Regions from separate parts of the Homo sapiens genome. Here region 2 is linked to region 1. The links come from fine-mapping of genetic effects on gene expression. Tissue or cell type: whole blood. Region 1 holds a variant in brackets; the other region holds the start of a gene. All regions are shown on one strand. Distances are between the middles of the regions.

Region 1 (5,000 bases):
TAAACTTAAAAAATTTAGTTAAGAAACCTGTAATTTGAGTTATAAAGAAAAAAGGGCAAGTTATATATGAGGCTGGCTTTAAAAAAAAAATCAAATTAAGTTTTTGAGTAACATTCTGTTTGAAAAACACACTCCATGACTCCATATCACAATTCTCAGTAACGGTGTGATAGAACTGATTTTAGGAAGCCCAAAGAGGAAAACACAAATGGATACTATCAAAAACAGTCACATTACAATTGAAAAAATATGATTAATGTCTCTAGGTTAGATAATAATACTGCATCAAGTTTAGTTTCCTTGTTTTGACAACTGTTCTGAGGTCATGTAAAAAAACAAAGTCCTTCTTTTAGAAAATACAAACTGAAGTACTTACAGGTTAAAGTGCTATTATGTAATTAATTACTCTTAAGTGATTATAAAAAACAATCATTATACACATACACACATATATGCTCGGAGAAAAAACAGAGAAAAAGCAAATGTAGTGAAATGTTAACATTTGGAGAAACTGATGAAGGGTAGAGAGGAATTCTTTATACTATTTTTGTAACTATTTTATCTAAAACAATCTCAACTTAATCTTCAGAAAAGAAAATAATAATGAAAATGTCTAAAAGCAACCACACAAATATAACACAGAAATCCGTATCAAAAACATCTACTTGAATATGCATGAAACAACCTTCCATTTCTTTTGTGGAGGGCAACATACATCTGCAATTCCATAACAGAAGTGATTAAATAAACCTTTCTGAACTTAAACATAGACTTTCAGGTATGGAATTTATCTCTATCTCTAATATCCACAATGACTCAACTTGAATCTTAATATATATCTTAGAGAAAAGGGAATTAAACATAAAACATTAAATTGAAAATAATGTGAGAGTGATGTTTTTCAGTCTCTTGATGCACACACATTATCATTAGTTGAGAATCTAGTCATCCTTCTTGCCTTAAGTTGATTTGATTCTGAATGAAATACAGATAATTAGGAAATATTATAATGTAAAGAATGTCAATACTGTTAGCTTCTCTGCCAATTCAATGAATGATGAACATCAACGAGGATGCTGGGAAAAACTCATTGTCTACTCATTTTAAAAGTATATGGAAAATTGAGATGCATTAATTTTAAAAAAGCTGTTTGCATATCAAAAAGGAATATCAAATATAATTAACAAAATATACATGTTATCAAAGATTACAAAGTTAAAAAGAAACTCAAAATAGAGGAAAACATATCCTTACCCTATTGGGAAATCAACATCATCACCATGAGCTGTCATGTGATAAAGTCCAAATTTAGCCAATTTAATATGTCCCTATGATAATAAAGAAAAAAAACACTATCAAATAATTTATTATAATTGGCAACATATAATTTATATTATAAAATTATCATTATACATTTTATAACTAAAGAAACCATTATATAACAATATTTTATCAAAATGCCACTGTAGATTTTAAAAAATCATAATTTTATAAAAAACTATCTGCCAATAGTCTGCTTTATACTCATTAAATATGTATATATGCATATGTACACATATATATCTCAAAATGACAAATGACATTTTTCTTTAATATTTTTGCTGTTACATTGTCTAGTTATTTCACAAAACAAAAAGGCAAAAACATTCTCATCTGTCTTGAAACCTTGGTTAGAATGTTTTGTGGTAATTTTCACAGAGCAAATTTTTTTCCATGGAGTTGAAAGTCCATTTATAGTTATAATTTAACTGTGAAATAGGAAAACTTAACTTGAAAAGATCAGTTCAAAAATCATCAAGATTTTGGTGAATCTGCTAGATTTTCAATAACTTTTTATATTGTTTGAGAACAAAAATAACTATCATAAGTATAAGGCTCTTAATAAATGATAAATATAATTTTACATATTTTAAGTTTTTCCCTTTTAATCTATAAGGCTTTAAAATATTAAGTTGATCTTAAAATTGGTTTGTCTTCTCAAGAACATTATTTCCAAGCATTATAAAATATTTATATTTAAAAACAGCTTAAATTGATAAGGTAATGATTCTTTACTGCCATAAATCTGAAACTAATGAGTACAATTTTCTATTTTTGTGTTTGTGTGTTTGTTTTTTAGAGACAGGGTCTCACACTGTCATCCAGGCTGGAGTGCATTGGTGTGATTATAGCTCACTGCAGCCTCAAACTCCTGGGCTCAAGCAATGTTCTCATCTCAGCCTCCCAAGTATTGATTTGGGAAAAGAACCAGAGAACAAGGATAATCCTAACACAGCAAATAATGCCCATGAAAAAATTTCCTCCAAGTTGTTTTTATGTATTTTATGAAAAGGAATCAAATTACAATTATTCCTGAAAATATATAACCTTACTATCCATAATTCTCTTTGAAGGGTTTACAAGCTTCTTCTTAATGCCCCATAAGATTTCCAGTAGAGAAACAGCACTTCAATAGTAAAAGGAGGTAGGCATGAACAGTTGGTAAATAAGGAGATAAATAGAAGAGGAAAGAAGGCAGAAGAAAAATAGAGAAAACACAATGCAGTTGGTTTATATGAATAACATTCTAGCAAAAAGAGCCATTTTCTTAAAAATGAAAATAAATTAAGAGGAGGAGTATACTGGGACGCCACAAGGCTTTAGAAATAAGAGTAAAATAAAAAAACCATAAAGTTAGAAAATGGGTCTTGTGGGAAAAATAATCCATGTGAAAGATATACAGATTAAATAATTTAAGGATTATTTAATCCTTAAATTCAAAAACCACAGTTACATCACTTTCATATAGACTTTTCATTATGAATATTCTTAAAACATATTCTGATTCTATTGTTCCTCTGACTGAGTAGCCCTGATCCCAGTTGCTTCCAATTTCAAATGATATATAAATATTTATTACATGATTTAACAATTACCTTTC[G/A]GTCCAACAGGATATTATGAGGAGACAATGCCCTGTGTACTATACCATGTTTGTTCATATACTGCAAGCCCTGAAGAACCTCAAATGCTATACACAAAACCGTTGAACAGCTACAAAGAAAACAAAAAGTCAAAGATCAATTACAAAGCAAATAAATAACTTGTTTTAACAAGTGAAATGTGACCTAGTGAAAATATTCAAAAAGTTATATTTTTATTGCTCCTCTTTTATTCTGAGAAAATAGAATCTATATATTTTCTAAAATATCTACCTCTACATATTTTAGGTTTTCTGATTATAACAGAATTAATCTGACAAAGATCCTACAGTTTCCTAAAGGCTACTGTAATAGCAGTATTTGGTTCTTCCACGAAAGGGCTTTAATTTTGGTGGTGAGTGCAACTAACCTATAGCAGGTTTGGCTTCGCCAAATTATCAGGTTAAGTTTCAAGTATATGGCAGAACTAAGTCACTAAAAACTATTTTGCTCAATACAAAATACCTAAGCCCCCGAAAAAAGTAGTAACAATATATTTTATGGTATACAAACACTAGCTTATTTTCCATATTCAACCTATAAAGCAATCTCTGGTCATTTATGATTTAGCAAACTTTTCTCTTTAATTCTTATCCTATCCTCTACAAGCCATCCTTCACACAGATATCCTCCAGTTTCCTTCTCCTTTTCCCTCCTTGTCTCTCTCACCAACCATCTCCCTAATTTTTTTTCCAATTTGCAAGTCTACTCATGCAAATTATCAGGAAACAGGTACTGTATTTGGGTAAATACTGCTACTTAGCAGTAGTAAGTAGGATTTGGAACATGTTTTAATTTTTATTATTACACTTTATAAAGTATGGATTGTTCATTTGCAGACATTGGTGCCTGCATTAAAATATTTTCTTGTCAACATTCCTTTTCTTTTTGAAAAGTTCAAATCTCAGAGCATAAGACAAATGTAATACTCACATACAATTAACCTAGCTTTATTAATTATCCTCTAATGTTTTAATCAAAAATTGTTCACATAGGAAATTTCCCCATACCTACAATATTAACATTTTCCTTTCTATCCATTTTTTTTAAATTTTTCTAAAATTAAATTAGTGTTTGCAGATAGCCACTAAACATAATTTTTAAAACCAATAGTAGAGATAATATGGAATAATAAAAAATATTCAATCCACAAACAGGCAGAATAAAAGGAAAAAAGAACAGAACAAATAGAAAATGACTAATAGATTAAGTACAAATGGTCTCAATTCACCAATTAAAACATAAGGATTGTCAGATTTGATAAGAATTTAAACTCAGCTATACTCAGTCTATGAGAAACGCACTAAATAAAAGACATAGGTTAAAAGTTAAAAAATGGACTAACAGATTGCCATGGGCTTGGGTGGGGGGTAGGTGGACTACAAAAGAGTATGAGAAAGTTTTGTGGCATGAGGGAACTGTTCTATCCTTGATTTTGATGATGGTTACATAATTTTGTTTATCAAACTCATTAAACTTTACATAAAACAGGGTAAATGTTAAGGTATGTAAATTATACCTTAATAATCCTGACTTTAAAAAATACTAGATTGAATAAAATTTTTACAAAAATAATTGTTGCAACCTGATTCTCTCTCCGAAATTAAAACCAAAAGAAATAACCAGAGATAAAAGCTAAAATTTGCCTCTATGATCCTAGTTTGACTTTCCAGAGGGAATCAGCAGGTTTTGTTTTCAATTCTTCTGGTGGTTAGATTTTTACTTACTTACTAACTCTTCACTATGCAAGAGGATATAATTGACGTATTTTCACAACTTTCCTATTTTTCTTCCTCAAGTCCTTTTTATTACATTGTTTTACATTAACAAATTTTATTTTACATTATCAAATAATCATCAGCAGGTAGTTTTCAATTCTGGTGGTAGACTTTTACTTAATATAACTAACTCTTCATTCTGCAAGAGGATACAGTTGTCATATTTTCACAACTTCCCCAATTTTCTTCCCAAACTTCTTATCTGTATTCATTATATTGTTTTTACATTATCAAACAGTAAGTGGGATAAAGGAAACCTACACTC
Region 2 (5,209 bases), 55 kb after region 1:
AACATTTTATTTTTTTTATTGGTTTTTGGCACGTGAATAAAGCGCAAATGTTATAGTTAAGAAATATATTACTAACTTTGACAATGTACAAGTAAATGTCCAGCTAAGAGAAAGTGGGCATAAATGTAGTTTCTGAAGTGATAAAGAAAAAGGTAGAATCACTACTTTTCTCGTTTTACCAAACAAGGAGTCAAATATATTTTCAAAAGTTGATGTGAAAAAAGTAGTTTACGTATATTATTTTGAATTATAAAGTAACCAATACAAAAACTAAAAATTATGATTATGACTCTTCCAAAATTCAGAGGAGATTGTGAATGGTGTGGGCTATTTCTAGAAGTCAACGGAAAAAGAATTAGCAGTTCAACTTAGGGCTATCTCAAGAAGTCAACAAAAAGAATTAACAGTTTAACTTATTATTTAACCTACAGACCTAAAATTAGAAAAGGTTAAAAGTGGTTATCTTTGAAGAACAGTACTGAGAGTAGGACAGGTGAGACAGTTGCACTTTATTATTCAATCCTACTACGCTATACTACTTGATTTTTTTTTTTTTTTTTTTTTTTTTTGAGACAGAGTCTCACTCTGTCATCAAGGCTGGAGTGCAGTGGCATGATCTCGGCTCACTGCATCCTTCCACCTCCCGGGTTCAAGCGATTCTGTGCCTCAGCCTCCAGAGTGGCTGGGATTACAGGCGCCCGCCACCACGCCCGGCTAATTTTTGTATTTTTAGTAGAGACGGGGTTTCACCATCCTGGCCAGGCTGGTCTTGAACTCCTGACCTCAGGTGATCCACCCGCCTCGACCTCCCAAAGTGCTAGGACTACAGGCGTGAGCCACCGCGCCCGACCATTTTATTTTCAATCAGATGTCTTTATCATCACATAGCTGAAAATAAAATAACCAAATAAAACACAATGATCGAAAAAGATAAAACACTAATTAGCATAATCAGTGTTCTTTTTCCACTACCTCTTAAATGGTTGTACATAAAAAGGCTCACACACAAAAATACACACACATACATTCACTTACACCTCGTGAGTGGAAGAAAACTACCGGGGGAAAAAAAACGTAGAGATGAGAGATTAGATGAGGGAAACAGCAGTGCAAGCAGTTGGGCTTGAAAATTCATTCATTCAACAAATATTTTGAAGCCCCTATTTTAAGTCAGTTGTTTTTCCAGCTGGTGGGCAAAGGATAATGAACAAGTCAGACTCTGTGCCCTCAAAGAACTTAGAGTTTTAAACGACTCGAATGGGGAAAGAAAGTAAAAAATAGGGCAAAAGACGCCGATTTTATCATGAATAAAATTTCACATTTCTTCAACAGGAAAATGATACTAATTCATTTATTTTATATATACATTCTCTCAAGAGGTTATTTTTGTCTCAAATAGATAGAAACCAGGACAGGGATCCTTGAAAAGCAGCCACTGACAATCCTCAAGTAACTTCCTTCCTCTGCTTCACTTTCTCCTACTGCTCAAGGGGGTGTTACACTTTGACGACTGACTAAACCTCGAGGGCCAGAAACAAACCAAAGCAAAATTCTGCCTCCAAGGTGAGTAATGGAGGGGCGGATTCTAGATTCTCTAACCTCCTTTAGCCTTCCTTTGAGGCAGTGACAGAGCGATTACTAAGCCTACGGTTCCCAAACGACTCAGGTGAACCTGATTTACAGGAAAGGCGGGCTGTAGCTAGGGATGGAGACAGTACCTATCAGCAAGCGGCTCCACAGCTCGGTTCTCTATCTATTCTGAAGACATGCGGGGCCACTCACTGCTCCTGATAGTCCTCTACCTCCCACAGACCCCACCCACTACGACACGGAAAACTGGATTACCCAAATACCTGCCTCTGAGTCTGGGGACGCAGGCAAGCACAAAGACAAGGGGGATGGAGCTTCTACACAGGGCCCCAGCGCTGTCGCTGTGGCTGCTGCTGCCGCTACGGCTTAGTGCACCAGACGCTGCATTTCAGGTGCTCCTACAAAAGAGGCCACTCCTGGAACGCCGGGAGCTCAGACGCTGCCCTTTGCTCGCGAGCCAAGTCAGCCAAGGTTAACCTTCGCGGAACCCGGCGAGGAGCGCAAGCCTGGCCTTCCCCAAACACAGATCCGAGCTTTTCACCCTCTACCCTCCCCTCAGCCTGGCCTTTTCTTCCGCCCTCACAGCCACCGCGACCCAACGCTGAGGAAAGACCCCGACTTGTGGTGTCCTTCCCCTTGCCCAAACTGGCCACGAAAGGACATATAGCGAGAGAGAAAGAGGTGCGGGGGGACGGGGGGGGTCGATTGAAAATACTGGGTGAGGGAATGGAAGACGAGGAGCGTGGTATGGCAGGTTAATGGGACTGAGCACAGGAAGAGGAAGAAAGAATTGAGGGTTGAATCTGTAGAACACTCAGGCTTTCAGCAAGGACACCTCATTGGGTCCTTTCTCACTGCTATAGTACGCGGGTGGCTGGACCTACATGCTTCCTGCTGTGGCTGTCTCGGAACCCGTGGTCCTCCGCTTCATGTGAGTGACGTCGTGGCGGGTCACTCACTCGGGGATCGCCGATTGCGATCGTAGGGGTCTTCCTTCTCTAACTTGCCTCCAGGAGAGAGGACCTGGCCTGCGCTGCTAATGGGTAGTCCGTTCGCAGCAGGACCAGCCCTGGCCTAAGGAAACAGGAAAGAGTTTGAGACTTCCTTCTAAAGGAGCCACGTTTGAGAAATGGGATGCAGGCCTAAGTTAAGAATGCTACAGAAAAATATCGATCCCTAAGCGTATTTACTGTTATGTGAATGTGTGTGTCAAAGGACTTAGGTGCTTTGGGGGAGAGGAGGGTGAAGACAGGAATTTATTCATTGAGCGAATAGTTATTAAGCGCCCACTCTATTCCAGACACCGTTCTAGGCATTAGGTGAACAGCAGTGAACAAAACAGACGGAAATCTGTGTCTACTTGTAGCTCACATTTTAGAGAGGAAGGCACATACTAAGCAAAGTAATTAGAAACATACTGTATTTTAGGTCGTGATAGTCCTGAAGAGAAACGTAAAGCAGGGAAGAAGGGTATAAAGTGACACAGGAAGGTCTTGCTGAAAAGATGACTTTTAAGTAAAGGGCTGACAGAAGTGGGAGATTTAACCACGCGAATATCTTGGGAAAGTGCAGTCAGACAGAGGGACCAGCCATTGCAGAGGTCATGAAGCAGAAACGTGCTAGAATAGCAAGGAGGCCTGTAGGGCAGAGTTGAGTGAAGGGTTTAGTCCTTCACTGGAGATTAAATCAAGGCGAGCAGGTCATGAAGATCTTGAGGACATCTAACTTTTATTCTAAATGAAATAGGACTTTGGAGCGTTTTGAGCAGTAGAGTGATGGGCTCTGACTTCCTTTTAAGAGGGTCACTCTTTAAGGAAAATACACAGAGGAGGACGTGGTAGGAGAAAGGAGACCAATAAGAAGAGTTTTGCAATAATCCAGAGGAAGCATAATGGTGGTTTGACTATGGGTGGTAAGAAATGGCCAGTTATATTCTTGATGCACTTAATTTGGATATGTAAGAGTATTATAGATGACAGGGTTAATTTTATTTAATTAGGCTTTGGAGGACACTTGAAAAATGAATTCCAGTGTGAGTTTCAGAGTGGCAAACACAAGTTAAAATCATGGCTTTGCTATGTGGTACTTGAAGGGATTCAGATAAGTCATGTAATTTTCCTGGATCTGTCTATAAAATGGAAATCACATCTGTCAAGATTGCAAAGGTTAGGGTATATTATAGGTATTTAATGACAAGGTATGTAATGGGTCTAGTCTGCAAATCTTAACCAGGTAAAAGATGGCCTTATTGTGAGGTAAGAGGGTCATGGGAGGCCAAGGCATACTCCTTTTTAAATTTTATGGACTCTGTACTGGGGAGGAAAGTTTTTGTGTTAATGACGATGGTATTTAGAAATGCATGGACTGGCCTCTCATAGCTGTCCACCCTATAGTCATTCCTTATAGCCATCCTTTAAACCCTCCAGGACCCCCTATGTCCTCATCAGTAAAGGGAAAGCAGGCTGTCTGGTAAGGGAAATAGGAACTTCCATAAAAAAGCAATTTTAGATATTCTTTTTATAGGTTTTGGCAAAGGTTGATAAAAGACCTAGGGAATTACTGCTGGTTGCTGCGCTTACATATTTTGAGTGTCTTCAGATGCATTGTTCTCAGTGTATTTAATTTTCTTCTTTAAATTCTGACTTTTGACACATATGATTTAAATCCTAGCAGGAATTTTCACCTAGTGCTAAAAGGTACCACATTGCTTTACACTATAATAAGGACGGTCTTTCAGTGTGGGGTATTTTATGTATACTATAATATTTTTACATATCCAGTAATTAGATTGTGTAGCAAATCAGGGAAAGAAGTTGGAAGGCAAGAATAGGAATGAAGGGAGGAGAAGAAAGGAAGAAAATGATTAAAATTACTATATTCCATCAATTCTGAGATACACATTTTTCTCTTACTTAACATCTCTGAAATAGGGATGTATTTTTAAGTTGTTGACATCTTTAAATCACTGTAGATGAATTGGCAGTTGTGAGATATTTGTCATTGCCCACACTTACACCCACTTAGTCATAACTTAATCTTGTCATTATTTCAGTTGAGTTATATATGCACTATTGGCATATAGTTGTTGAGTGTAATTTCCCTTTTAAAGATCATTTAGAAGATTATGATTAGCATTAGAATGAAAAGTTACTGTGTATGTGGGGAAACAAAGGGTGATACAAGATAAAAATCCAGGGTTAAATTTAAAAGAAGTCTGTCAATAAATAATATAGGATGTGTCTAAGTAATAAGAAAGCATTGGGTCAGTTGATTCAATAGTGTTTTTTTTCATAATGTACATAAAATAATAGAGCTTCTTGGGATTGAAGCCATTTTACAATTGATGGCATTTTAGATTTCTTGTATAGTATTTAAAGCTTCCAACAAAAATGTAAATTTTTACCTACTGTAATTCTGAAATAGGGAAATTAGAGGTTTTGAGTAGAGACACTTTCAAATTTGTGTAGCGTTCCTATATAGCATAAGAATTCTAAAATTAAAAGTCTGCCTGTAAAACTTTGATTTCAAAGTAGTAACTTACTTATGTTTGATTCCCAATGTTGTCATCGTGGGGCAGAGATTTTGCTTTTTCAAAAAGATTGCAGGCAATTTAGATGGT

The links. PIP is the estimated chance that this variant, and not a neighbour inherited with it, causes the effect.
Region 2: it holds the start of TBCK, and the variant in region 1 is fine-mapped to the expression of TBCK in whole blood (TOPMed, PIP above 0.99).

What each region holds. Positions count from the first base shown.
Region 1 is chr4:106,259,183-106,264,182 of GRCh38, forward strand. It overlaps TBCK (TBC1 domain containing kinase), which reads right to left. Exons shown (of 26, transcript NM_001163435.3): 4 at 2,916-3,030; 5 at 1,255-1,328. Among named protein-coding and RNA genes, the nearest start is that of TBCK, 55 kb to the right of the region's middle. The variant G/A (reference allele first, on the strand shown) is at 2,921.
Region 2 is chr4:106,314,074-106,319,282 of GRCh38, forward strand. It overlaps TBCK (TBC1 domain containing kinase), which reads right to left and starts at 2,136. Exons shown (of 26, transcript NM_001163435.3): 1 at 1,858-2,136. It overlaps AIMP1 (aminoacyl tRNA synthetase complex interacting multifunctional protein 1), which reads left to right and starts at 2,477. Exons shown (of 7, transcript NM_001142416.2): 1 at 2,477-2,521. RefSeq lists enhancers at 1,716-1,805, 1,886-1,945, 2,436-2,685.